Homo sapiens: one gene and its partners. The protein of the gene in region 1 interacts with the protein of each later gene in a biochemical or structural test. Each region holds a gene or a part of one and is shown in the gene's direction. Other genes may lie near its edges. The genes, in order: PLCG1, NCAM1, RAC1, SH2D1B, DUSP15, TUB and KDR.

Region 1 (4,030 bases):
CAGCCGGGTTTTCTGCCACCTGGACTCTTGCCCAAGCACCTCAGGTATCTGGCCTTTCCTGCTGACCCTACCAGGGTACCAGCAGTGCCTGAAGCCTGGCCTAAGAGAGAGACACTGTGCTACCTTCAGGGTGTTGGTAGACCTGAGGGAGAGACAGTGTGGTTTAAGGAGCACTCATACTGATATGTAAGACCTTCTTCTGCCCTGACTCTGTGCCCTCTCTTGTCAGCAGTTGTGAAATGGAGCTGACACCTCCTGATTTCTAGGGTGGTCATTTGGCTCAAAAGCGGGGTGGGGAAGTGCTTAGGTGTTGACAAGTTTGGTTGTCCTGGTGGTATGACAGGAACCAGGTTGGTGTTTGGCCTTTTATGTTGCAGATACTGACATAAATGAATAAAATGCAGTTATGTAGAGTTCCAGCTGAGTGCTATTGAGACCTTTCGTCCCATTTTACAGATGAGCAAATGGAAATGGAGAATCGTTTGTGCCCAAGGTGTTGTGTCAGTGTGTGCCAGGGCCTCAGCTGGGGCCAGCTCACTAGTCAGAGGCTGACTAGCAACCCCAAGCCCATGTTCCCTGTGGTCCACGTGGCTCCTCTGTGAGACACCTTTGTGCTCAGACCATGCATTACAGGGCAAAGACCACTTTGGCTTTTGTATCCCAAGACAGCCTCAGCCTCTCTAGGCTCTGGCTCCACACTTTTTCTTCTGGTGTTTTCTGAGTTGAGATGGTTCAGACTCGTGTTTAATGAGGTTGTCCATTTGAGGGTCTTTGTGGGCCCAGTAAACACTGGTGTAGACACTGTGGAGGTACTCTGAATACTGGCTGAGCATGTCCATGGGGACTTCTGAGGCCCCAGGCTTCTGTCTTTGGCTGATCCTTCACTAGATACTTTTCTAGATGCCAGGCCCTCTGAGGTGAAGGAGTATGGGTGCTTGCTTTTAGGGAAATGAAAACAGGCAATGACAATTGTGAGCAGTACCTTTGATGAAGAGGGTGAGGGTGGCGGAAGAAAACAGCTAACTGCCTTGATGAGGCAGGCGGGCTCAGAAGGGAGGTAGTAGTGGAACCAGCTGGCTGGGGCTTGACCCCTGTGGCTGGGGAGCAGACCACACCAGGAGGCCTGCTCCGAGGGCTAGGCCCACAGCACGGGAGAGGGCAAGGCCCAGGCCGGTGTCATCAAGGGTTTTCTTTGTACTGGCTGTTACTCCCAGTGGGAGAGGGGCAGGAGCACATGTCCGGATCTCCAGAGCTAGCCATCCCTGCCTGTGTATTTCCTGTCTGATGTAGTTTTTTCCAAGGGAAGTCAGACCTTTTAGTGTTTCCTCAGCACCCCAGGCTTGCCCCGATGTGTGGGTTTCCAGGCCCCCCCGCCCAGCTGGGATCCTCTGTTTCCTGTGAACCTAGGAAAAGGGCCTGCTTCACAGATAACTGGAGGAGCTGAGCACACCCAGTCCTGGGACCCACAACACCTCCAGCTTCTCTCCAGACTCTTGTGTGTGTGTGTACACAGATGCACAGGATTCAGTTGGAGTTTAGAGATCTTGGCTACCAGCTTTGCTCTGGGTAGCTTCTTGGAATGAGGCACATTTATTAATATTTGCAATAAGTATTATTATACCTCCCCATTTGCCCAGTGCTAGGCACCAAGGATTCAAAAGTTTATTGAGACATGGTTTGTGCCATTGATGAACTCTTGGAAAAGACAGATGTAGAGGCATATGATTATAACCCTGTGTGTTACATACCATAATATAAAGGCCTCTACCAAGAACTGTGAGGAGCTCTGCCAGGAAGGCATTAAAGGAGAGGTGACCTTTGAGGTAGGCCTTGAATTACTGAGGCACCTGTCTGTGCCGAGGCTAAGGAACTGGGAATCACTCTGTGCAGGGGTAGGGAACAGATATGGTGTGGTAGAGAGGAAGCTGGGACTGGTTGGAGACAGCTATAGCCCTAGTGTGCCATGTCCAGCAGATTACACTCAGTCCTGGAGGCGACGGGAGTCAGCGGAGGCTGTTGTGGGACTGACTTGCCTCTGCCTGGGAGACCACAGTGGCAGTGGTTTGTCAGGCAGGTGTTGGGGAGGGAGGCCAGTGAGCTCCTACGGTTTGCACAGTTTGCAGGAGAGAGCTGCTGAGGGCCCAGACAAGACCTTCTTGCTGAGGCAGGGTGGGGATGCCATGGTGGTAGATGGGAGAAGGGCTGGGTCTTGAGGGGTGAGACAGAGCTTAGTAGTTAAGCATTTGGGCCCTAGACTCTGCTTGAATTAAAATCCTGTTGTGCAGCTTACTTGCTCTGTGACCTTAAAGCATATGACTACCTCTCTGGGCTGCTTATCTGTAAAAAGGATAGTATTAAATGGCATTTATTTTATAAGGTTTTTGTGAGGATTTGATGAGAACCTGTATAAAGTGCTTAGCACCTGTATAAAGTGCTTAGCATGGAGTGTGGCACAGTGTAAGTGCTTACTACGTAGGATCCCTGACAGGACAGAGATGAGGATTAAGTTCTCAGGAGGACCTGGTGGGGAGGAGTTCGAATGCACCTGCTGTCCTAAGGGGCTGGTGCCTGGCCACCAAGCCCTTTGATTCAGAGGCAAGGAGGCCCGCCCATCCTCTCTTGCAGCTCTCAGCAGTCCCTCTATTGTCAGGGCTCTTTCCCACTGCTGGTTTTGCAGGGAGACAGGGCAGTTGGCTGGAAGCAGCTGCTTTGGGTGGTAACCCCTTCTGTAGAGTGAAGGTATGATATTGTCCTATTTCTAAGTGCCTAGCCCAGGACGCTATCTGGAGAGATCTTGTCTTTGAGGAAGTGCTCTAATGCCACAGCCTCGATGTGGTAGGGCCTGCCTCTGCTGTCACTGTTCTGTGTCAGTCTCCGTTAACTCACAGCATCTCTTCTTACTCTGTGCCTTTTCCTGTGGGATGTGGCTTCAAGGAGACCACAGATGATAAGTTGGAGGAAGGGAGTGAGGCCTGAGATTGCAAAGGTGTGATATTAGGAGACTGATTTTTCCCCCTTTCCACTTGCTTTGTTAGAACTAGAGAAGTCACTGCAGACTGTGAGGAGAGTCCTAGGAGAGATGGGTGTGGGATAGGAGGATGGGAATGTTCTGGTGCCCCTTGTAGAGTGCCTTGTTGAGAGGAGCATGGGAACAGTGCGTCCTTGGAGGGAATCTCTGAGAGCAGCATGTTTACAGGTGGCAAGACTCAAGGTGGAGCCACGGGTGAGGAGTGGCTTCAGGCTACCATTGACCAGATAGTCCCACCTTGCTGGTAATTGAGCTGAAGTGCCTGGAGATTTGTGGCTAGAGCTGGTCAGATTTGGGTTCAGGTCTCAGCTCTTACTGTGACCTTGGGCAGATTACTTTTCCCTGTCTGAAATTGATCTTTAGCTGTAAAAGTAATTTCTCCTCACAGAGCTGTATATTAATAATAAGGGAGATTATATATAAGAGTAAGAGATTTTATGTGAAAACTACCCAGCACAACATTTGTCACTTAGTGGCCACTTAACAGTATTCATTTCCTTTACTCTCACCTTTGTTAACCACAGAGCTCCAATCTTTTCCACCACTAAGCTCGGCCACAAGTGGCTGCTCCAACAACCTGGGCTAGGAGTCTGTTTCCTACTTGCTTTCTGTGTTCCTTCCCTGAGTCTGTACACAGAGGACTGGGGCATCAAAAAACTCTGGAATTGGAATAGCATATTGGGAGTTCATGGAACATTTTCTCACCTGTTGTATTGTTTGAACTTCACAGCAGCTCCATGAATCCATGGAGGGCAGGAGTTACTATCCCTCTCTTACAGAGGAGAAAACCAAGCCCTAAGGGTAAGGTCACATAGCAAGTTCATGGCAGATCCTAGGATTTCAGATTCCTGCTATAGTATTCAGTTTATTCTCCCATTCTGGGGAAAATGATAATAGGATGGACCGTTCTATAGGAACAGAGGGTTATTTTGTTTTGTTTTGTTTTTCTTCCCTCTGGCCACATGTGTTTGACCAGCCTAGACTTCCATCTGTGGACAAGCT
Region 2 (4,030 bases), on another chromosome or scaffold:
ACACAACCTCCTCCCTTCACTCTTTCTTAAAGTCAGTTGGGAAGCCTATTTTTGAATGGAAGATCTGGGTTTCATTCTTGAACATTGGAATGTACGTTTGAACTGAACTTTGTGGGTTTTTTTTTGTTTTTTGTTTTGTTTTGTTTTGTTTTGTTTTTTCAGTTTCTCTGCAGGTGGATATTGTTCCCAGCCAGGGGGAGATCAGCGTTGGAGAGTCCAAATTCTTCTTATGCCAAGGCAAGTGCCTAGTGCTCAGCTGCATTTTAGAACTTGCTTCAGAAACTCACTGGGTAGAGCAGGAGCCCTCAGGCCATGTGAGCTGGCTGGTCAAGCCACACCTAGAATTCTTGGCATTGCTCTATTACAGGGTCAATAGTATGGCCATTTAAGAGCCAGGGCCTCTTCCTTCCTTTTGCAAAAATCTGCCTCAACATAGCAAATCTGTCATCTAGACTTCACCTTGACTACAGAGGAAGTCTAGGAGTTTTCTTAGAAAAATCAGCACAACTTCCAGAATAGTGAATCATCCCCCATCTCCTATTCTGTATACATTCAGAGTTCTGTAAATGACAATGGAGAACAGCACTGGCTCAGAAACAATACTTCGGTGGATCTGTTTAAGGCTTATTTCTTAGAATTCCCCAGAGCTTGAAAATCTAAGTCTAAAACTTGCCTGTAGGTAAATAGAATACTGGTATGGCTTTTGTTGTGAGGACATATATCCTGGGTTTACCAGGTCTATTGTGAATATCGATATTCTGTGCCATGGTCCCCACCAGAGCTCTGAGATATGCCAGACCTGGTGACCTTGTTTTACATTTAGAAAACATGCCCCATTTCCACAGCCCAGATAATTGCCAGAAAATGTCCTGTGGAGGAAAAGGTTTCAAATTAAGCCTCAGATTCTCTGTATATGACATGACTGGGATTCAGAACATGGAAGAACCAGGAAAGAGCTGAGCTAGGTGTAAATGGTGACATTTAGCAAGCAGCTTTTGGCAGGGAGGGGCCTTTAAATGCTGTCATGATTTGCGTGGACGAGGTGGCTTGTGGCCGTCGGATGTGTTCACTCCAGCTTTGCCTTCATTACAGCAATTTCAATGATCTGGAGACGCAGCCGTGGAGCCCACAGCACATCTTGCAAATAGCGATATTTATTGAAAACATGATGGGCCCTGAAAGGAAGACTGCTTCATTTCCATACTAAGCATCTGTGCAGGGCTGGGTGGTGCAGGCTGAGAAGGGCGCCACGCGAAGAGGCAGGGGCCCATGCAAACAGGCAGGGCGCCGCCACATCCGCCGGATCTGAGCGCCCTTCCAGCTCAGTGTCCTGGGCAGTTTCAGTGTCAGAGCCCTGTTCCAGCTCAGTGCCGGGGGCAGCTCAGCCACCACAGTCTGTTCCTCCTCATTGCTGCCTGGGGAAAGGAAGAATGGGTGGTTCTGGCTACCTTCTTTGCAGCATGCAAGGAAATGAATTTGTCTGAGCAGGGAGTGACGAAATGACAGTCATGCCAGTTTGTGCAGGCAGATGCTAGAATAAATGTGGCTGGAAAAAATGAAATAAAAAGTGGTTGGAATCTGCACTCCTATACTAGCCAGTATTTCTCGCCTTCATCTCAGGAGACCCATTATCCAAGGCTTCAAAAACAAGCTGATCAGTAGACTCAGACCAGTTAGGCTCTGGCGCCCGAATCCTAAATACACTAATTCCCTTGGTTACCCGTTGTGTGAGGCATGTGTGTTCCTAGCTTAGTGCCCAGCACACAGTATGTTCTCAACAAGTATCTCTTCTCTTCCATCATTAGGGATAGGACCATGATAACAACTAGTACAAGTGGTTGTTGAGTTCTTTCCAAATATTGTAAGAGGTGTTAAGTATATAATAGTTAAATGCAGAGGCCAAAGAAGGGCTGCATGTCATTCCAGCAGCCATACTCACCCCTCCCTGATGTTCAAGCCTTGACTGATCTGTTGTTCAGTAACTCTTACTGATCAGCCACTGTCAGTCTGGAGGGGACTTATTAGTCTTTTCGACTTCAGTAGCTTAAAAATAATCTCTTCCTCTTTAGTGGCAGGAGATGCCAAAGATAAAGACATCTCCTGGTTCTCCCCCAATGGAGAAAAGCTCACCCCAAACCAGCAGCGGATCTCAGTGGTGTGGAATGATGATTCCTCCTCCACCCTCACCATCTATAACGCCAACATCGACGACGCCGGCATTTACAAGTGTGTGGTTACAGGCGAGGATGGCAGTGAGTCAGAGGCCACCGTCAACGTGAAGATCTTTCGTAAGAGCCTCCTTCTTCTTCTGCATTCTCTGGCCTCTCCTTGCCAAGGAGACATGTGGGTAGTGGAAAGGTGGAAATGATGACAGAAGGACCAGCTGAGGGCCTAACCAGTCCCATTCTCTCTCCCTAAGTCTTTTCTGACCTTGGCCAACCCAGAACTCACAACCCTGGTTCACACTGGTCACAGCTACTCCCCCACAGGCGTTCATTCTCAAAATTCAAATTACATAGTTCCCAGAGGGCTATTACGGGTTTCTCTATCCCTTCCCCAAATGTTGGCTGACTGTTCTGCAATTTGGGCTCCTCTCCCTTCTTATTTCCCTCTCCCCTGCTGGTAATGGAGCCCAGGGCTCAGTGGGGTGGGGGATCATTATCTGAACACTCTCTGCCACTCAGAGCAGGCAGTTCCTATTGCCTCTGAAACCCCATCTGTAGGTGGCATCTCGTTACCTTGTTATTTATATCATGCATCCATCCCAGTGGTTGGAGTAATGGTGGGTGACAGCTAATGGAACAGTATTGATTGCACGGTATTTATTGCCATTAAATGTGCTTTTTTCCTGTTCTTTTCATCAGCATTCTGTCTGCCGTAGGAAAGTTGGGGTGGGACTGGGAGTAGCAGTTCGAGTGGGAGACAAGAAAAGGACTGATGATTCTTACTATTCGTTGTGGAATGGATGTTCCACCAGTTCATTCTACCTATAACCTGTGCTTCACTGGCATCATCCTGCATGACAAGGAACCCTTGGTGAAGATATTCCTTTCATTCTGTAGACCCTTTTCTGCACAAAATGTGATAAATTTAGCACTCAATGAGCAGATATTGGTTGCCAAGCATTGGTAACCTATGCTTGGGCCAGCTGCTCTGCCTGACGTCTCTGAGGGTGCCCCTCTTATACAACTGTACATCAGGATCGAGACTTGCCCAGGACTCAAGTCCAGGTACCATGGCTCTAGTGAAAGGGGTTCTTTGTGAGAGAAGCAGCTGTTTTCCCTCACTCTTCTGTTCATCTTCCAGAGAAGCTCATGTTCAAGAATGCGCCAACCCCACAGGAGTTCCGGGAGGGGGAAGATGCCGTGATTGTGTGTGATGTGGTCAGCTCCCTCCCACCAACCATCATCTGGAAACACAAAGGCCGAGATGTCATCCTGAAAAAAGATGGTGAGACCTGAATTTCCTGGCATCTGCCTTTTCCCCAGGCCACCAAGTTCCCTAGCTTTTTCACCTGTACTGAGGCATTCCAGTCCAAACTCCAATTCATGTGTGCCCGAACCCTCATGTGGTTTCTGGGTCCTGAATAGATGCATATCTGAAGTTGGTATACTTAGGTACCTGATTTTCTCTCCAGTACGAAAGACAAATTTCTAATAGACATTTACTCTTGGCTGTATTTCAAAGCCAGGGACGCATTTTCTTATTTGGGCTTAAAACCCCACCCTATGATACTGAAGTTAGGAAAAAGGAAAGAGACTCAGCCACCTGCCTGCAGATGCTCTCTGACTGATTCTTGGATGAACCTGCCTCTTATCTCTTCTAGTCCGATTCATAGTCCTGTCCAACAACTACCTGCAGATCCGGGGCATCAAGAAAACAGATGAGGGCACTTATCGCTGTGAGGGCAGAATCCTGGCACGGGGGGAGATCAACTTCAAGGACATTCAGGTCATTGTGAATGGTGAGGAGAGTCCGTTCTTCCTGATCTCTGCATTGCTACAACCTTGGTTCTCCAAAATCATTCTCT
Region 3 (3,500 bases), on another chromosome or scaffold:
GCACTTGAAAGTGCCCGTGGCTCCCGCCTGCCTTTGCGGTAAGGGACAGTGCAGAACATCTCCGGCTGTGCCAGCTGTTGTAGATTCTGGTGGGTGCTGCCATGGGAGGAGGAGCACGTTGTTGCCCCCCCTCAGGATCTCCCTGACCTCTGTCTTCACCATCGTTGAACTTAACGCCTGCTTTTGACCAGGTAGCGTGGAGTGTTTCAGTGGCATTTGTCATCGAAGATATGTTAGAATCTATTGTATGCTTTTGGATCTCTCCGGAGGGTTAAGACAAAATTCTAATAAAGAATCGATAAGAGGTTATATTGATTTTTGTTGTCCTCAGTCTGTACTAAACTCAAACCAAGTTCTCATGCATTACTAGGTTGGAGAAACGTACGGTAAGGATATAACCTCCCGGGGCAAAGACAAGCCGATTGCCGTATGTAAAACTTTCAGTCCACTTCAGTTTCAAGCTTTCTCTGTTCTCTCATTTCACTTCGTTTTCCTAGGATTTTTTATTAAGCCTCAAGCTCCTTGAGTGTTTTATATTTAATTCACTCAAGGTTGGGGTTTTGCTTGATGAAATAAACTTCATTAGAGTGTGATAGTTTACCCACCGGCTTGAATTAAAGCAGTTTGTGAACTGTGATCTTCTCCTCCCAAGTGAAAGGAGGGGACAGTGAGAGGGCCCCTCTCCTGGCTGGTTGGAGATGCAGATATGGAGACTCCTCCCGGAAGCCCACCTGGCTGTGAGCCGAGCCGGAGCAGGACTAACCTTGTTGCCGGGGCCTTCTTTCTCCGCTTGGGTGTCCCGTGTGGTGGGGCTGTCTGGGCGTGGCTGTGCAGTGCTGCTGAGCTAACCCCACCGTGCTTGAGATGGTGTGCTGGGTGCCGCGGTGATTCTTGGACGAGCTTGTGCATGCGCCAGCATTCTTCAAATGCCAGTTATAAAAAGCTGTTGTGTGGGATGTTTCTTTCCCTTTCAGGTACAAGGTATCAGCTGGAGGGTTGAAAGTGTAGCTTGGGAATTGTGTGCATTTCATAAAGTAGCATAATTGCCTTTTTCCAGGAGAATATTTTAGAAATCTAGCATTTTAGAATTCTTGGGCATTTTTAAATACAGGTGAATATTTGAATTTGGTTTGACACAAAATACAGAATGGATGAAGCATGCAGATGTTTGGCGTGTGCCCCGAAGCACCCTCTACTCTGTCCTCTGCACCCACCCTTTGCGCCTCTGCGTCAGCCACAGCTGCCCCGGGAGCGAGTTCTCCTGAGGCCCTGGCTGTGCTGACTCTAGGGCAGCGTGAGGGTGGTTGTCAGCTGTGAAGGTGCCACTTACACACTAAGTCCTCCTTCCTTGTGGAGGGAAGGGCTCAAGTAGCAAATATTGGAGCCCCCGCTTGGTGCTGGGAGCTGTGACAGGCAGCTCCTGAAGAAGCAGTTTAATTGGAACCAGTGACCATCTAAAACTGTTTGTACTCTAAACCAGATTTTACAGAAATATTGGAATCATACCTTTATACTTGATTTTTTCATTTTAGATAGTTAGGCGTAAAGGAAGCCTCCTGAGGGTCTGGTCTGATCCTCCTGATCCTTGAAGAGCTTCCAGCATCATTCTCCCTTCATGCTCCCCATTTTCATAAGTAACTGGTGGCTTGACATGCTGGGTTTGGTTTGGGAGCCCTCTGACAAACTGAAAGGGTGGATCAGGAAGCGTCTGACCACACCACTGGTAGACACGCTCTGCGTCCAACAAGTCCTTCCCAGCAACATGTAGAAAGCAAAGTGCATGCTTCATTCTAAGGTTGTTGTCTAAATGTTTCCCTGTGTTTCCTTTTTGTAGGATGTGTTCTTAATTTGCTTTTCCCTTGTGAGTCCTGCATCATTTGAAAATGTCCGTGCAAAGGTAGGTGGGGATTTAAAATGTGTATGTAAGTTATAGAATGATCCTCTCAGAAATAAATACTTTAAAATATCACTTAGCCTAGGAATTTTTAGTTATTTAAATTGGTTTTAGCAATTTGCTACTTAAGTACATGATTGGGTTTTTTTTTTTCTTTTGAGACGGAGGTCTCACTCTGTTGTGTCCAGGCTGGAGTTGTAGTGGTGACATCAGAGCTCACTGTAGCCTTGAACTCCTGGGCTCAAACAGTTCTCCTGCCCCAGCCTCCTGAGTTGCTGGGACCATAAATGTGCACCACCATGCGTGGCTAATCTTAAAAGAATTTTTGTATGGCTGGTTTTGTAGACCCTGGCTTGTCTCAAACTCCTGGGTTGAAGTGATCTTTCAGCTTCAGCCTCCCAAAGTGGTGGGATTATAGCTGTGAGCCACTGCATCTGGCCCATCAGCAGTTTATTTTATTTATTTATTTTTGAGAGAGTCTTTTTTTTTGTTTTTGTTTTTGTTTTTGAGATGGAGTTTCACTCTTGTTGCCCAGGCTGGAGTGCAGTGACGCAATCTTGGCTCACTGCAACTTCCGCCTCCTGGGTTCAAGTGATTCTCATGCCTCAGCCTCCCGAGTAACTGGGATTACAGGCATGCACCACCACGCCCGGCTAATTTTGTATTTTTAGTAGAAATGTGGTTTCTCCACGTCAGTCAGGCTGGTCTCGAACTCCCGACCTCAGGTGATCCGCGCGTCTCGGCCTCCCAAAGTGCTGGGATTACAGGCGTGGGCCACCGTGCCCGGCTGAGACAGAATCTTGCACTGTCATCCAAGCTGGAGTGCAGTGGCACAATCTTGGGTCACTGCAACCTCCCCCTCCCGGTTCAAGCAATTCTCCTGCCTCAGCCTCCTTAGTAGCTGGGATTACAGGTGCCCGCCAACACACCTGGCTAATTTTTGTACTTTTAGTAGAGACGGGGTTTCACCATGTTTGCCAGGCTGGTCTCGAACCCCTGGCCTCAAGTGATCCACCCGCCGCAGACTCCCAGAGTGCTGGGATTTCAGGTGTGAGCCACTATGCCCGGCCTAATACGTGGATTTTTAAAGCTTCAGGTTCTGGTTCAGAAGTTTCCTGGGTCTCATTAAAATAATGAGGCACTCAGAATTGGTCTAATAAAAATAACGACCATTTCTTTCTACTCCAGTCTCTTTCACAAACTTCTTAGTGAAAATGACAAGTGAGGCCCTTCAGTAGGGGCATTTTCAGTGGAGATAATAGCGGCAGACCTGAGACCTTGGGCTAGGTAGTTTATTCTCATTTCTGAACAGATGATGAATTTTCTCAGATGACCCTAAGAAATTGTTTTACCAAAAACAAAGTGATCTATTTGCTTTGGGAGGAACTCCCTTCCTTTTGTTTCTCTTCCCTTCCCCCCTTCCCCTGCGGTTGTAGAGCCCGTTCTGTCCGGTCGTGGTTCTGTCCAGCCATGATCCGGGAGTCCTAGCTTGCTAATGGAACACCTGAGATGTTCCTTATGGCTCAAGGCTTGAATTGAAGGTGGGAACCACCTGAAGCCTCCGTGGGGAGGCCTTGCCTGAGGTTAGGTGTCTGGCATGAGTGCC
Region 4 (4,030 bases), on another chromosome or scaffold:
CCATCTCAAATAAAATAAACAAAGAGTGGAAAAGATCTGCTTACATGTAAATGGGATGGAGGGCATTTTAGGAAGGGGAGGAGGTAGGAACAGGAGTCTAGAAGTGGGATATTTTAAAGGATTTACATACAAGGTTCCTAAAATGTAGTTTGGAAACCAGCTTTTGGAAAAGGAGGGTGGGATAAGATCATGGAGTTTTAAAAGAATGGTTCTATAGATAACAGGGAAACATGGATGGTTTCTGAGCAGGGAAGTGAAAAGACTGGTGAATTTAGGAACTTCAATTTGACGTGGAGAACACAATGAAGCTGGGAAATGATGGCAACAGAAACTGTTGTGTCTCTGGACGGGAGACGGTGAAGAGCTAGTTGTGCTGGGGCAAGCAGTGGGAAGGGAAAAAACAAGAAGGTGCAAGGACAGACCTTGGCCAGGATCTCAGGGTATATGGTCAATATGGGATTCTCTTCCTTCCTTTCTTTCTTTTTTTTTTTTTTAGACAGGGTCTCACTCCAGCTCCTAGGCTGGAGTGCAGTGGTGCGATCATGGCTCACTGCAACCTCAACCTTCTGGGTTCAAGAGATTCTCCTGTCTCAGGCCCCCTGAGTATCTGGGACTACAGGTGCGCACTACCATGCCTGGTTAATGTTTAAATTTTTTGTAGACATGGGGTCTCGCTATGTTGCCCAGGCTGATTTCGAGCTCCTGGGCTCCAGTGATCCACCCACCTCAGCCTCCCAAAGTGCTGGGATTACAGGCATGAGCCACTGCACCCAGCCTATATTGGGATTCTCTTTGAAAATTGATATTTATTCTCAACTGTTCTGTGGTGCATCAGCCCATCTTGCATATTCATCTAAAGCAAAGGTCACTAAGAGATGCTAAAAAATGGGCCAGGCGTGGTGGCTCACACCTGTATTCCCAGCACTCTGGGAGGCCGAGGCGGGCAGATCACTAGGTCAAGAGATTGAGACCATCCTGGCCAACATGGTGAAACTCTGTCTCTACTAAAAATACAAAACTAATTAGCTGGGTGTGGTGGCATGCGCCTGTAGTCCCAGCTACTCAGGAGGCTGAGGCAGGAGAATTGCTTGAACCCAGGAGGCGGAGGTTGCAGTGAGCCAAGATCGCACCACTGCACTCCAGCCGGGTTACAGAGCGAGACTTGATCTCAAAAAAAAAAAAAAAAAGAAGAGAAAAAAAGAGAAGCTAAAAAATGAAAATAAACCAAGTGGAGAGGCAAAAATAAATATTTGTTAAGCCCCTGCACATGATCAGGTCTCACCCACCTCCCTACACATGTCACTGAAAGGCAAACAACATTTCATTCACCCTCAGGCTTAAGGCTTAGGTCAAGTGACCCCTGAAGCTATCTCCTCATAGGGCCTTGTAAAAATGTATTATCATACAGATAAGTATGGACTATTAAATTCTAGTTGTTCAACAAATATTTGAATTCTCTCATATGTCAGACAGTGTGCTAGACACTCGGTTGATGCCTTCAACACAACTCAGAGCCTAGTGGGGAAAATAAAGAAGTAAACAGACACAGTGATGCATGTGATAATTATGATGATTGGACTATCATTAGGGCACTGTAGAGCTGACAGCAAAAAGGGGAGAACCAGATATTGGAGCTGAGACTTTAGGAGAATAAGTGGAACCTTCATTCATTCAACAAGCATATACTGAGCACTTATTATGTTCCATGCGTGGTCCTAAGCATTGGTAATACAGTGATAAATACTACTGGCAATGTTTCTGCCCTCATGAAGTTAATTTCAGTAAGAGGAGAAAATATGATGAAAATGAAACAGAGTCATATGACAGGGAGAGACACAGCTGCTGCTTTCCATTGGGTACAGGAAAGGTTTCTCTGAAGAGGTCACATCAACCAATTCATGCTTCAAGATACAACCCTTTGCAAGCAAAGCAAGAATTACTATTATGATACAAGTGTTAGCCTGCTTGTCTTCACTGACACAGAAAAAGTTACCATGTAGGTATTATCTATGAGCCAAACATTTTGCTAAGCATGGTACATGCATTATCTTATTTGTCATTTGCAATCCCTTTGCGGTAGGCGACATGATCACTATTTTGTGAGAAAATAAACTGTAGCTTCTTATTTAATAGCTTGCCTAGGGCCAAATTGCTAATATGTTATTACATTCCCTCTCTTACCAATGTCCCCAGCTTCACTGAAATATGTTTCAGGTAATCACCTTGGATCTGTGTTATAAAATGCCCAAGCAGGGGACCTGAGGGCTTGGGAGTGGACTCTGATATGCAGTGTCCCCTTCTTCTCTGCTGCATTAAAATGGGTCTCCCCTGGACACCCAGCTTTAAAATTTCTCTGTTTTGTACTCTTTCCCTTTATTTCTTAGACTGGCCGACACTTAGGGAGAATAGAAAAGAACCTACGTTGAAATATTGGGGGCTGGTTCCCCCGATACTTCAGGACTTTCACAGAGCTAAATATTTAGTGATGAAAATACTGTGAGGAAGGTTAGAAATAAAAGAAGGAGGTCACAGAGAGAGCTGACCTAGCAGCATATGGCACTAACCAGAAAGCTATGTGGTAACTGTGGACAGGAAATGTTTTCTGATCTTACAATGTAATAGAGTGTCTAGAAAACTCCAGTGTGTAAAAGGTTGTCTGTGTAGTGTGACTTTGTGAGTGTCTAAACTGTCTGCCTTTATCATCAGTAAAATTAAATGGAGTAGATATTAGGAGGTGCAAAGGATTCATCTGCAAGTGTGAAGAAAAGGAGGACTTTGCAAAGCCATAGGAAGGCTGCAGGTGAGGAAGACCTGAGCCCTAACCTACTGCATGCTCTCATTAAGAATAATAATGGCAATGTCTATCTATTGCCTTGAGAGTCATTTATGAGTCTCAGATTCTGAGACTTTTGCAAGGATTGTAGAGTACAGAAAGAAAAGAAATGATCCATTTTGTTGTGGTGGTTTATCAAGCTAATGAAAATTCATTTTAGAAAATCAAATATAGAGAAAGGTATAAAAAACAAAACAAACTATATCAGTCTCACCACTCTGAAATCACCATTTTTAATATTTTGGCATACATCTCTCCAGACTTCTCTGCGCATCTATAAACCAATATATGTACATAAATGGTTCATTATACATGATGGCTTGCAACCTGTTTTCTCCATAATTGTAGGTCTCTTTCCCCATCAAAGAAAGCAGGTCATCCCCTTATGACTGCTTAGTATTTTATTGATTTGATATATCATAATGTATACATATCATACATTAGGTTATTTTCAATTTTCATTTGCAATTTAGTCCAGTGGACTCAGTGTAATTTGGAATGATTAACATTTTTGTACTTACATCTGTGAAAGTTTGCCTTACTCCCTAGTTAGGATAAAATCCTAGATGTTTAAAAAAATCTTCATGCACACTGAAAAATTAGTACCACAAAAGGTTGCACCAAGATACACTGAGATCAGGAACAGTGATAAGGCCAGAGGTCAAAAGTCTTAAAATATTTCTTTGTTGACTTGGATTTCCCACTTGCATCATGGCATGGAAAAATGCAGAACACATTGTTGATATTATAGGGTGCAGTCGATTCCATTTCCTTCAGCTGACCTTTTGAAGGTTAGTTAAAATAAAAACTTGAACACAAACAAGTTTCCCCACAACAATGGCCACAACATGAGACCGTGCTAATCTGTGGGCTGTTCATGCGTTGAGCAAGGACTCAGAGATCCGTGCACAGCACCTCATGGAACGATCACTTTGAAAGCTAAATAGATAGAGTAAAACAATTCAAAGATATGGGAAAACTTAGAGGTCCTGTATTCCAGCCTTTTTGAACCTCAACTGAGAAATTAATGCCTAAGATTTTTAAATGTTTTTTATAAGTCCAGTGTATTTCTCATAAATGACGACAACGATTTCCATAGAATAAACAAAAAGGTAGGCTCCACTGGGTATCAGTCTCACACAGAGAGTCAAGACACCACATATTTATTGAGAACATAACTGCAAAAATAGGAAACAC
Region 5 (4,671 bases), 9.3 Mb from region 1:
TTCTACTTTTTAAATGTGGCTGCACATGTGGCTGGCATTATATTTCATTTGGACAATGCTGGTCTATACCATTAGCTAATGAAGGTAGGAACAATCTCTACCCACTGCTGTGTCCCTAGTCTCTATCATATACTAGATGCTCAGTAAGTATTTACTGAATAATTTGGTATTTATGAGAACTCTGGGCTTTTATGAGAGCTGAGACGGGCAGCCCCATGTATGCTATGAACTTGAGGGAGGAAGAAACAGTTTTATTTTTCTCCAATCACTGTATTTCAAAGGGCTCTGTGGATTCTCTCTGTCCTGCTCTCTATCCACAATCCCCAGTCACCTACTACTATAGATTGAGGGGTGGGGGTGATGGCTGAAGGAACAAAGCTGGTGCAGCTGCTTCTATTTCAGTCCTATAGGAAGTGTCTTGATTATTTTACATTCTCCAGCTTTGGTCCTAGAAGCCAGGAAGGGCTCACCTCAACATCCTCAGAAACACAGATAGGGTTAGCTGGGGGTCACGGGGACTTTCCCAGGGTCATCTAGCAGGTCAGAGGTGAACAGGGCCTCAAACCTTGGTCTCCAGACCCCTTCCAGGACCCTGACCTCTAGCTATTAATACATCCTGATGTAGTCTCCTTCAGACTGGAACCCTCCCTCAAACCCCTCTCCCAACATTCACCTGTAATTTCTTGGGGCACCTAATGGCAGTTGTGCCTGGTCCCAGCAGAGCTTCCCTGGATGGCACCATCCCTCCTAGGGGCCGAAATGGATGGAAGGAAGGAGTGAGAGGATGGATGAATGGATGGGAAGATGGACGAGTGAATGAGTGAACAGGAGGGTGGGAGAATGGATGGGAAAGGAGGAAGGCTGGTTGGTAGGGTGTCTCTGCACGGGTGGAGAGGATGTATCGGAAGGAATTACCCACTTATCCCGTTCCAAGCAGACTCTGAAGAGCAGAGAGCCCTCGGCGATCAAAGTCCAGCCCCGTCACGTTTCTGCTAGAAGCCGAGGCGGGAGAAGTTGGGTGCTTTCCCCCGGGGCCCGCAGGGACGTCCAGGCAGAGCCGGAAGGGGGACGGGAGTTTGTGGGCCGGCCGGGGGGCTCTAGGCGACATCCCCCCATCCGCCCGCGCCTGCCGGTGCCAGGGTGGGGTAAGGCCCCCGCCCCCACCTCCGGAGGTGGCGGCCCCACGCGGCCCCAACAAACTGCCGTTGTCCCGCGGGCCGTGGGCCCGGCACACTGGGGCTTTGTCCGGCCCCCCGCCGCGACCCGAGGCGGGGGCCCCACATGACCGAAGGGGTAGGAGGAGCCTGCGGCGGCGGCGGTGGCAGCGGCGGCTCCACCACCATTTCCCTCCCGGGCCGGGGGTCGGCGGGCGGTGGCGGTGGCTGGGCAGGGCTGGGCAGGGCCGCGGACGCCAGGCCCCCCGTTCCCCGCCAGGCTGCAGGCGTCGGGCCTGGGCCGTCAGGGCAGCTGTGACCGGATCGCTTCCCGGGCGGCGAGCTGGGGGTGCACCCGGACCGCCGCCCCCGGGATCATGGGCAATGGCATGACCAAGGTAGGGGGCGGGCCCCGCGCAGCCTCCCCGGTCCCCGCCCCGGCCGCCGCGGCCCGGCGCTGACCAGCTCGGTCCGCCCGCCTCTGACCTTCTGTTCTCGCCGGTCTCCGTGCGGCGGCATCTCCGTGTCCCTGTGACTCGAGACCGCGGCTGTCGGGTCTCCCCCTCTCTGACCCTGCGTCTCTGTCCCCGCTGTGTCCGCCCTCTCTCCGTGACTCTGTGTGTCTCTCGCTGTCTTGCTGTGGCTGTCACTCCCAGGCTGTCTCCCAGTGAGTCCTGCTCTCCGTCTGCATGTGTCCCTCTCCCTTGTCGCTGACTCCTCGGCTCTCTCCGGGGCTGTTTCTCCATCCTGTCCCGCCTCTGCCTGTCATTGCCTTTCTGCCTCCCCAGCCCCAGAATTTCCATCCCTGCACCCTGCAAGTCTACCTCTCTCCTCTCCTCTCCTCCTAAGACCTGCCTTCCTCCTCTCCCCTCTCATACCCAAGCTGGCCTCCCTTGGTTCCCTCGGTTGGTTAACTGGCCCCCTAGCCTACCCTCCCCAGAGCCCCAGACCCCTCTCACAGAGGACTCAGGGCCCACAAAAGGGAAGAGAGTGCTCCCTGAGCCCTGAGGTCCATACCCTTCATGGGACAGAGAGGGGCTGTGGGCCCCCCAGCTGCCCTGGGGGTGGAAGGGGGTGCAGCCCCTGCCCCACTGACCCTTGCCTGTCCTTCCTCTAGGTACTTCCTGGACTCTACCTCGGAAACTTCATTGGTGAGCACTGCCCACTCTGTCCCGAGGCCATGGCACTCTGCCTGTCTCAGGCCTGTGTCCACCATTCATGCCCTGGCCCATGCATCTCAGGAATGGGGTTGGGGGCAGGGAAGCGGCCCCAGGCTGGGAGGGGGAAAAGGCTGATGGAGGACAAGGGGTGCACATGCAGGCGAGTGTCCCCAGGCTTGAAGGGACATGGAGGGAGCATGGGGGCCTGACACTGACATCCCTCCCCGCCATTCAGCCTTCCCCAGTGTTCTACCACCAGACCAAAGGGCCAGAGCAAAGGGCTCGGGGCCTGGGCTGTGGACCTGAGCAAGTCTACACCTGCGCTAAGCCTCAGCCTCCTCCTCAGCACAAAAGGTCCACCAGCTGCTGAGCACTCTTCTGGCCCTGAGGTTCTGGGTTGAGGTCTGTTTGCGGGTGCTGCTTCTAGCGGGGAAGCTGGGAACTCTTCCCCCCATAACTTCCTCCTTGTCAGAGGAGAGGTCCCTGGAGATGGGCTGGGCCTTCTTGTGAGCAGGGTCATGAGCACCAACACTGTCGCACCCCAGAGCCCTGGAGCAGCTGGGCAGCCTAGAGCTGGAAGTTGGGGGGGCGGTGAGCCGGCAAGCTTTGCATTCCCCACTCTCTCATCCATTCCTTCCACAATCTTCAGTCAGGAGGAGGGGACACCCATGTATAGATACCTTGTTCTTCAGGGGCTTCCAGGCTGGTGGCAGGCAGGCAGAGCTGAACATAGACCTTGGGTAGAAAACATGCTGGGTAGAAACCATGCTAAGGGGGCTGGGCGCAGTGGCTCACGCCTTTAATCCCAGCACTTTGGGAGGCGGAGGCGGGCAGACCACCTGAGGTCAGGAGTTCGAGACCAGCCTGGCCAACATAGTGAAACCCCGTCTCTACTAAAAATACAAAAATCAGCCAGGCACGATGGCAGGCGCCTGTAATCCCAGCTACTTGGGAGGCTGAGGCAGGAGAATCACTTGAACCCGGGAGGCGGGGGTTGCAGTCAGCCGAGATCGTGCCACTGCACTCCAGTCTGGGCAACAGAGCGAGACTCTGTCTCAAAAAAAAAAAAAAAAAAAAAGAGAAAGAAAAAAGAAAAGAAAACATGCTAAGGGGCAGACTGATCCAGGGCTTGGGTGACTCAAAGTGGGAAAATCATTTCCATCTGCAGAGTCAGAAAAAGCTTTAGAGAGGGAGGGGCTCAGGTGCTTCACCCTTGTAAATCCTGGTCCCTTCCTTCCTGGGAGCTCCCTCAGCCGCTCATGCCACCTTGATTTCTGTGAGTATTTGGCCAAGTAAGGTCTGAACCCTCTGTAAGTGTGCAGGCCCCATAAGGGCAGGAGCCACGAAGCTGGCCCCAGACCTCCAGTGCCCAGCCAAAGTATACACATGGTTAGCACTCGGTAAATGCTCATCGAATGAGGAAGTGGAGATAGAGGGGACATGTGTTATTCATTCTGAATATAAAAGATCTGCATATGCTGGGTATGCAGCCCCTAGAGAGGGCCACTGTTGGGTACATCCTTGTTCATATATCTTTGTAGATAAGGACATAGTATTTAAAACAAAAGTGGAAGCTTATTCTGTATCCTTAAAAATACATTGTGGGCATCAGCCGGGCACGATGGCTCACGCCTGTAATCCCAGCACTTTGGGAGGCCAAGGCGGGCGGATCACGAGGTCAGGAGATCGAGACCATCCTGGCTAACACGGTGAAACCCCGTCTCTACTAAAAATGCAAAAAAATTAGCCGGGTGTGGTGGCGGGAGCCTGTAGTCCCAGCTACTCCGGAGGCTGAGGCAGGAGAATGGCGTGAACCCGGGAGGCAGAGCTTGTGGTCAGCCGAGATCGCGCCACTGGACTCCAGCCTGGGAGAGAGAGCAAGACTCCGTCTCAAAAAAAAAAAAAAAAAAAAAAAAAAAAAAACATTGTGGGCATCATTGCACATCAGCATATAGAACTCTTTTTAATGGCGGCACACTGTGCCAAAGTATGCCTACACCATTAATCATCCAGTCCCTTTTTAATGAACACCAGGTTGTTCCCATGTTTAAACTATTTGTGATATAAGCAGGACTGCAGAGAACATCATCCTCCACACACAGCTTTCTGTGTGAGCAAGCGCTTCTGTAGACAAGATTCCTAGAAGCAGAATTGCTGGGTCAAAGAATATGCCTGGGAAGGGTGTTTTGGATGGAAAGAACAGAATGAGCAAGGATGGGGATATGCTGTACTGTTACTTGCATGTGCCCCAGAAGCAAGAGGATCAGGGAGCCGGCAGAGCGTGGGCCAAGGTGGAGTGGTGGGGTGAGAGGGAGAGCTGGGCAGGCAGTGAGCTCCCTCCGCACTTGGCCATCAGG
Region 6 (4,678 bases), on another chromosome or scaffold:
TGCCTTCTGCACCCCACTCCCAGGTGTTTTATTTTGTCTGCTCTCTGTCCCCAGTGACAGTGACAGCTCTTGGAGGTTGATAAATAATCAGAGGTCATAGTGTTCAGAGAGCATCAATGTTGTGCCCGACAGAGATGGATCTGACCTGTCCTGAGCTCCAGAAGCCTGGAGAGAGAGGCCATGTGTGTGTGCATGCATGTGTGTAGGTGTGTGTAGGTGTGCGTGTGTGTGTGCATGTGTGTAGGGGTGTGTGTGTGTGCACTACATGAACTGTGATTGGCCAAAAGGAGGCTGAGGGTAAGTGCTGTAGACCCAGACCTTTTGTGTGTGAATGCTAGCTTCATCATTGACCAGCTGTGTGACTTTGGGCAAGATCCTTGCCTTCTCTGTGACTCAGTTCCTCTGCTGTGAAATGGGTATGCTAATGGTGCCTACCTTCTAGGGTGGCTATGAGGATTAAACGAATTATAATATGTACGTAGCACCTAACACAGCTCCTGACGCCCAGCAAATAATCCAAATATTGTGGGTTATTGTGTTTTATAATTAATGGGCAAGAGAAGGCAAGGCTGAAGGGCTGGGAGAGCCCTGGGGTGGGGGTCTGGCTGTAGCCCCAGGGCAGCAGGATGAGCCCCCTCCCTCAGCCCCCTTGGCTGTTCTCACACTCTCTGCGGGGCAGTCCTGACCGCCTATTTATCATCAGAAGATCCCCGCACAACACTCTTCTGGCGCGGTTGGCGCGGCAGAATCCAGGATGCACACGAGGACGCCCACGGGGCGTGTGGGGACCGTGCCCCTCCGCAGACCTCTCCCGGATCACCTGCTCCACACGCAGGCCTTGGTGACCCCTCAGCCTGCTGCTCCTTGCTTCCGCCCGCCCTGCTGTGGGTCCCGCACCTTCTCAGTGTGCCATGCCTTGCATTCAAGCTGGTCCTAGTCACAGCCAGGACCTCCTCAGCGCGCAGAGACTTTCAGATGATCTTTGTAGGGGTTTTTGCCTCCGGTCAACTGCGCCCCTTAGGAAGGGCTTTGGAGGACACAGATCACAGAACAGTTTCAGCTCCACCACTTCCTAGCTTTACGGCCTTGGGCATCTCAGCATTCCTATTCTCTGGGTTATAGGGATATGATGTTTGTCTCTCAAGGCTACTGTGGAGATTACATACTAGAAATTTGCAAGGGCTGGGAATGCAATAGACCGTAAATGTTCCCCTTCCCTTGACGCTATAGCTTAGATGGGAGGGAGCCACTGCTGAGGAAACACCTCCTTAACCCAAAGACAGAGGGTTCCCCAGGCGGGGGTGTGGGAACTCGGAGGTGGGGGTGAGGGAAGGCCAACCTCCACGCTTCGGCCCGGAGGTTCCCCCGCCTCTTCCTGCACGACTGGATTCCTTCTCCATCCGCGCCTCCGGCCCGGTCCCTGCCCCGCCAAATCCGCGCATCGGTTTCCCATCCCATAGCGCAGATAGGTAGGGCAGGTACACAGGGAGGTGTTCGAATGATCCCCGTTTCACAGAAGACGAAACTGAGGCTGGGAGGCCTGGGGACTGGCCCGGCTGCAGCGCCGCCGTTAGCCGAAGGTGGGAGCCGGCGCGGTCACGCGCATGGAGCGTGGATCGCGACGATTTCGGGGGAGGGGGCAAGGGCGCTCCGCAGGCCCTGAGCCGGCCGGGGGGTGGGGTCTCTGCGGGGCGGGGCGGGGCGGGGCGAGGGAGAAGGGGCAGGCCGCCGCTGCCACGCAGTACTCCCGCCTTGGCGCCAGAGGGGCGCGGGACGGTGCGGTCGGCCTCCCCGCCTCCACGCGCGCGCACGACCCGCGCACTCCCGGAGCTTCGCCCATCTCGCCTCGCCGCGCCGCGCAGGCAGCCGCTCGCAGAGCCAGCAGCCGGGGCCCTGGCGTGCAGCGCGGGCCTCGGCGGGGCCCAGCGCCCCGGCCCGGGAGGATGCGGCCCGGGGCGGCCCGGGAGCTGAGCAGGGCCCCCGCGCCGGCCCCTCCGGGCCCCGGCCTCCAGAGCCGCAGCCACCGCCCCGCCCCCGAGAGACATGACTTCCAAGCCGCATTCCGACTGGATTCCCTACAGGTACGCGGGCGCCGGGCCGGGGCGCCCACCACTCCCGACTCGGGACGTGAGCTGGCTGGGGATACGCGGCCGGGGCGCAGGGCACCGCTGCCCTCCCCACCTATCCCAGCACTGGGGCGCGGGTTGGAGTCGCTGGTCCTTCCTCCCTCAACTTTGAGGGCCCCTGCGGACTGCTCCCGCCTGCCCCGCTCCACCCCCTTATCTGCCAGGGTTGCTGGAAGGGGCCTGTGTGGGCCTTGTTGGGTCAGGCAGCACCATGTGGCCGCCTGGGGAAGGAGTCCACACTGCTCTGAGCCCCCTCCTAGGCCCAGAACCCCAGTCACACGCCTGTGCAGGGTGCGCGCACACGCTCATACATCTGCACGCATGCACCCACAGGACGTCCCTGCCTTGGGCCAAAGACGCTCCTGCTGGTCGGTTCACACTCTCAAAGCATGGATCCGTGAAGACAGTTATTCTGAACCAAGAGCACACCAGTGGTCATGTGGACATGCACCCGTATATTCTACACACAAGAATTCTTGGGCTCACAAAGACACATGCCTGCATATCTGTGCACGTCCACCTCCTGTATCTGGAGAATAACTGACACCTGCTTCTCACTCACAAGTGCTACTCAGTCTCTTTCAGACACTGAATAATCTACTTGCTAGCAGGTCTATACCTAGACACACACCAGCTCACAGTACATAGAACTGCCCTCACATGCAGAAAGGCACTCAAGAATCCAGGCACACTCAGGGAAGCCCCCCACCCTCTGCTGCCAGGCACTGTGGTCTATCTCAAGGATGGCTGGGCTTTCCCATTTGCCTGGGAAGGGGGCGGGGAGGTGGTCTCTGGGGGGCCCCTCACAGGTGCAGGTCTTTCCCTATCCACTCTACTCCATTCTATTACCAGGGAAGGGAGCTCATCGCCATGGCAGCGCCAGATTCTTGGCCACCCATTGGCTCCTTGGTTGCCATGGGCTACGGGGCTGTCTCTGTGGAAAATGGGTGCTGGACTCCTAAGGCCCACTGTGTTATTGTCGACCCAGGTGCACGTGCTAGCGGACGGCAGGATGAGATCCTCAGGTCCCGCCTTGTAACACAGCTTGCTCTCTGTTAGAGCCTCATACCAGTCACTGATAGAAAATAGTTCTGACAGGGCTCTTCTCTGAGTCTGTCCAGACAGCGTCCCAAATGGAAACCAGCTGAAACCGCCCAAGGCTTCTTAAAAGCAGATCCTTCTGAAAACAGGCACGTGGCCTGGGAACTCAGGGTTTCTCTTGAGAATTGTTACCTCTAATCTCAGCTCCTGTGGGGGATTCAGGGGTTTCCAGGTTATTTTGTGTCTCTCCCCACAACCACCAGCAACACCCTCACACGTGCGCACATACAGGTCACCCACAGGCTCTCCTGCAGACACATGTAGTCACACTTCAGTCTCACATGGATTAGGGAGCTGTTTCCATCATGGAACCAGGGACTGGGGCTGTGCTGACTGAGAAGAGCTGCTGCGCCAGACAGACGTCCAGGCTGGGGCACAGGTAGTTTCTGGAGGATCCTGGCCTTTCTTGGCACATGTGGGCTGAGGACCTTCTAGAAGACAGTGCAGCCCCATGGAGCGTCATCAACCTTTTCTAGCCACGCGGCAGAGGTGCCTGGGCGGTGCTTGTGGGCTGAGTGGACTCCGGTGCTGTGGAAGTACCTGTGTGCGGGGGTCCAGATGGCAGGGTGGTGGCCATGGACCGAGGAGGGTGGGAGGGGCAGCACTTACGGCTGTGGAGATTATGACGTGGTTAGGATCTGGCAAACTGGAGGTTGGGCCAGGCCAAGACATGGTTCTAGAAAGCTTCTCCCAGGGAGCCAGGGACTAAAGCCACTTGTAGAGAGTGTGCAGGGGTCTTAGAGAAAATATGCCTCAAACGGAATGGCTTAAGCCTGTTCCTGGGAAAGGTGGCCCAGGAAGGTAGAACTGTCTCTAGGAAATGATCCTGTTCTAGCAAGTGCCTAGGGCCCTGGCATCCTGCAAGGAGTGATTTGGCACTTGCCTCAGCCCAGGTCCAACTACTATCTCCCCTCCACCGCCACCCCTCCAATTCCTTTCCTGGGCCGCAGACTCAGCCCTGAAGCATAGAATCCTGCCTCCCTGGAAGCCTGGCCCCGAGGAGCGTCTCAACACCCTTATAGCCCTGCACTGCTTGCTTTCCCCATGCCTGTCACTCCACCTCCTCGTTCTGTTGTAGAGAGGGGGGTGTGTAGCTGGAGGCAGGCTATGTCAGCAGTTGCCAGGATCCCCCCTGCCCTGCTGGGGTCTTTCTGGGCACGCACTGAGTGTGGCAAAGTACTGGAACTGGGGTGCAGACTTCCAAAATGGGAGACTTGGGCTGAGAGGAGGAGATTCAAATTGCCTCTTGCATTAACTGGGCTGCTGATTGCAGTCAAAGCCACATGCTGTCTGATCACAGAGAAAACTGGGGCAGAAGACAGACAAAGCATTTTACTTGCAGATGGGAGTGGGGGCAGGGGGTGGCATGCACGTGCTTTGACTGGTGTGAGGTTTCCCTAATGTCACAGCATGTCAGAGCTGGAATGTGGCATTTGGTTTGGGAGAGAGGG
Region 7 (3,145 bases), on another chromosome or scaffold:
GAGTTACTAAAATTCCCTTTTGCAGTTTTAACATGAAGAAGTTGGGGAAAACACCTATTACCGGGAAAAAACACCTTAGAATGGCTTGTGAAAGTGTAAATCCTGAAGTTTTAGATCAACACAGCCTGCATTTCTAGGCTTTGACATGATTACCGTCTGTCAGGATTCCATGCCATTGAAAACATTTTCTAGTTGCTGCTGAGTGACAGGGGTTCTCAGTCCTTCCAAGGAATGTGGTTTTGATGAGTAAAAAGCAGCGTTTGATATGTCTGGCTTGACTGCACACATGCTTCAAGTTATTAAAGTTTAAAGTTGCTCAAGAGCTTTATTACAACCATACACATGCCCCGTAATTCCCAAATTGCCACAATAGGAAAAGCACAAGTGAAATTTAAGAACATCCCAATTTCCTTGAATATCATGCAAGTGGCCCTTTGGCGCCTGTCACTGTATACAAATTTGTCAATCTGCGAGGCCATAAACATGTTCCATCAGTTGGGGCCTTTGCATAACTCGAGAGAACTGCCTTTCATCTCATTTGAGGCTTGAAAGACTTGGACCTGAGTAAGAGGACTTATCTGCAACTACTAATTCATGCGAGTACCTGAAAATAGACCTTGTCCCTGTAAACCTGCTATGCTGATTAACAACTGGGAGAGATACGGGGCTGCGGTCTCCAGGGAGATGGCAGCCATATGGAGTTGGGAATGGGGTGAGGGTAAAAAGCAAAAGAATTGTCTTCTCTCTGCCAACTCCTTTGTTTGCCATTTCTTCTGCAGTGGAATGGTGCCCAGCAAAAGCAGGGAGTCTGTGGCATCTGAAGGCTCAAACCAGACAAGCGGCTACCAGTCCGGATATCACTCCGATGACACAGACACCACCGTGTACTCCAGTGAGGAAGCAGAACTTTTAAAGCTGATAGAGATTGGAGTGCAAACCGGTAGCACAGCCCAGATTCTCCAGCCTGACTCGGGGACCACACTGAGCTCTCCTCCTGTTTAAAAGGAAGCATCCACACCCCCAACTCCTGGACATCACATGAGAGGTGCTGCTCAGATTTTCAAGTGTTGTTCTTTCCACCAGCAGGAAGTAGCCGCATTTGATTTTCATTTCGACAACAGAAAAAGGACCTCGGACTGCAGGGAGCCAGTCTTCTAGGCATATCCTGGAAGAGGCTTGTGACCCAAGAATGTGTCTGTGTCTTCTCCCAGTGTTGACCTGATCCTCTTTTTCATTCATTTAAAAAGCATTTATCATGCCCCCTGCTGCGGGTCTCACCATGGGTTTAGAACAAAGACGTTCAAGAAATGGCCCCATCCTCAAAGAAGTAGCAGTACCTGGGGAGCTGACACTTCTGTAAAACTAGAAGATAAACCAGGCAATGTAAGTGTTCGAGGTGTTGAAGATGGGAAGGATTTGCAGGGCTGAGTCTATCCAAGAGGCTTTGTTTAGGACGTGGGTCCCAAGCCAAGCCTTAAGTGTGGAATTCGGATTGATAGAAAGGAAGACTAACGTTACCTTGCTTTGGAGAGTACTGGAGCCTGCAAATGCATTGTGTTTGCTCTGGTGGAGGTGGGCATGGGGTCTGTTCTGAAATGTAAAGGGTTCAGACGGGGTTTCTGGTTTTAGAAGGTTGCGTGTTCTTCGAGTTGGGCTAAAGTAGAGTTCGTTGTGCTGTTTCTGACTCCTAATGAGAGTTCCTTCCAGACCGTTACGTGTCTCCTGGCCAAGCCCCAGGAAGGAAATGATGCAGCTCTGGCTCCTTGTCTCCCAGGCTGATCCTTTATTCAGAATACCACAAAGAAAGGACATTCAGCTCAAGGCTCCCTGCCGTGTTGAAGAGTTCTGACTGCACAAACCAGCTTCTGGTTTCTTCTGGAATGAATACCCTCATATCTGTCCTGATGTGATATGTCTGAGACTGAATGCGGGAGGTTCAATGTGAAGCTGTGTGTGGTGTCAAAGTTTCAGGAAGGATTTTACCCTTTTGTTCTTCCCCCTGTCCCCAACCCACTCTCACCCCGCAACCCATCAGTATTTTAGTTATTTGGCCTCTACTCCAGTAAACCTGATTGGGTTTGTTCACTCTCTGAATGATTATTAGCCAGACTTCAAAATTATTTTATAGCCCAAATTATAACATCTATTGTATTATTTAGACTTTTAACATATAGAGCTATTTCTACTGATTTTTGCCCTTGTTCTGTCCTTTTTTTCAAAAAAGAAAATGTGTTTTTTGTTTGGTACCATAGTGTGAAATGCTGGGAACAATGACTATAAGACATGCTATGGCACATATATTTATAGTCTGTTTATGTAGAAACAAATGTAATATATTAAAGCCTTATATATAATGAACTTTGTACTATTCACATTTTGTATCAGTATTATGTAGCATAACAAAGGTCATAATGCTTTCAGCAATTGATGTCATTTTATTAAAGAACATTGAAAAACTTGAAGGAATCCCTTTGCAAGGTTGCATTACTGTACCCATCATTTCTAAAATGGAAGAGGGGGTGGCTGGGCACAGTGGCCGACACCTAAAAACCCAGCACTTTGGGGGGCCAAGGTGGGAGGATCGCTTGAGCCCAGGAGTTCAAGACCAGTCTGGCCAACATGGTCAGATTCCATCTCAAAGAAAAAAGGTAAAAATAAAATAAAATGGAGAAGAAGGAATCAGACATAATTTCCATGTGGTTGTTTTACATTTTTACTGGTTTTCTTACTCTTCTTATAAGGGATATTTTCATAAACTGATTATATATTTTACAAACCAATAAATGTATTTGTAGTACAAAGTATGAGGGTATAATATCACCACAACTATTTTGAGGATAAGTATGTCTGGTTTAAAGTTTAACTGCTTCTTCCCTCTTCTTCTTCATTACAAAGAATTCACACACACACACACACACACACACACACACACACACACGCCACGCATACACCCCCCAACACCCACACCTCCTCCCAGCCCCCCCACACCCACACATCCAACCCCCCATACTCACACTCACACCCCCTCACAGTCACACCCACCCCCACACACCTACACACCCACCAGCACACACATACCCACACACAGATCCACCCACACACCCACACCCACCCACATACACACACCCCCCCACATGCACACCCC

Evidence for each region.
Region 2: the proteins of PLCG1 (region 1) and NCAM1 form a complex in vitro, tested with the Homo sapiens proteins (one study listed by BioGRID).
Region 3: the proteins of PLCG1 (region 1) and RAC1 form a complex in vitro, tested with the Homo sapiens proteins (one study listed by IntAct).
Region 4: the proteins of PLCG1 (region 1) and SH2D1B interact in a biophysical measurement, tested with the Homo sapiens proteins (one study listed by IntAct).
Region 5: the proteins of PLCG1 (region 1) and DUSP15 interact in a biophysical measurement, tested with the Homo sapiens proteins (one large-scale study listed by IntAct).
Region 6: the proteins of PLCG1 (region 1) and TUB form a complex in vitro, tested with the Homo sapiens proteins (one study listed by BioGRID).
Region 7: the proteins of PLCG1 (region 1) and KDR form a complex in vitro, tested with the Homo sapiens proteins (one study listed by BioGRID).

The regions. Positions count from the first base shown.
Region 1 is NC_000020.11:41,140,385-41,144,414, forward strand, and holds part of PLCG1 (1-phosphatidylinositol 4,5-bisphosphate phosphodiesterase gamma-1), read left to right. Parts: intron 1-4,030. UniProt on the Homo sapiens protein: Mediates the production of the second messenger molecules diacylglycerol (DAG) and inositol 1,4,5-trisphosphate (IP3). Plays an important role in the regulation of intracellular signaling cascades.
Region 2 is NC_000011.10:113,202,217-113,206,246, forward strand, and holds part of NCAM1 (neural cell adhesion molecule 1 isoform 2 precursor), read left to right. Parts: intron 1-162; coding exon 163-237; intron 238-2,069; coding exon 2,070-2,288; intron 2,289-3,306; coding exon 3,307-3,450; intron 3,451-3,826; coding exon 3,827-3,964; intron 3,965-4,030.
Region 3 is NC_000007.14:6,398,292-6,401,791, forward strand, and holds part of RAC1 (ras-related C3 botulinum toxin substrate 1), read left to right. Parts: intron 1-370; coding exon of another isoform or gene 371-427; intron 428-1,834; coding exon 1,835-1,897; intron 1,898-3,500. UniProt on the Homo sapiens protein: Plasma membrane-associated small GTPase which cycles between active GTP-bound and inactive GDP-bound states.
Region 4 is NC_000001.11:162,405,572-162,409,601, reverse strand, and holds part of SH2D1B (SH2 domain-containing protein 1B), read left to right. Parts: intron 1-4,030. UniProt on the Homo sapiens protein: Cytoplasmic adapter regulating receptors of the signaling lymphocytic activation molecule (SLAM) family such as CD84, SLAMF1, LY9 and CD244. In SLAM signaling seems to cooperate with SH2D1A/SAP.
Region 5 is NC_000020.11:31,867,198-31,871,868, reverse strand, and holds the start of DUSP15 (dual specificity protein phosphatase 15), read left to right. Parts: upstream 1-1,341; 5' UTR 1,342-1,531; coding exon 1,532-1,552; intron 1,553-1,637; exon of another isoform or gene 1,638-2,059; intron 2,060-2,079; exon of another isoform or gene 2,080-2,163; intron 2,164-2,271; coding exon 2,272-2,305; intron 2,306-2,468; exon of another isoform or gene 2,469-2,716; intron 2,717-4,671. Other genes in the region: probable tubulin polyglutamylase TTLL9, read right to left, coding at 674-742. UniProt on the Homo sapiens protein: May dephosphorylate MAPK13, ATF2, ERBB3, PDGFRB and SNX6.
Region 6 is NC_000011.10:8,079,468-8,084,145, forward strand, and holds the start of TUB (tubby protein homolog), read left to right. Parts: upstream 1-1,743; 5' UTR 1,744-2,043; coding exon 2,044-2,081; intron 2,082-2,417; exon of another isoform or gene 2,418-3,532; coding exon of another isoform or gene 3,533-3,606; intron 3,607-4,678. UniProt on the Homo sapiens protein: Functions in signal transduction from heterotrimeric G protein-coupled receptors. Binds to membranes containing phosphatidylinositol 4,5-bisphosphate. Can bind DNA (in vitro). May contribute to the regulation of transcription in the nucleus.
Region 7 is NC_000004.12:55,077,798-55,080,942, reverse strand, and holds the end of KDR (vascular endothelial growth factor receptor 2 precursor), read left to right. Parts: intron 1-779; coding exon 780-1,002; 3' UTR 1,003-2,462; downstream 2,463-3,145. UniProt on the Homo sapiens protein: Tyrosine-protein kinase that acts as a cell-surface receptor for VEGFA, VEGFC and VEGFD. Plays an essential role in the regulation of angiogenesis, vascular development, vascular permeability, and embryonic hematopoiesis.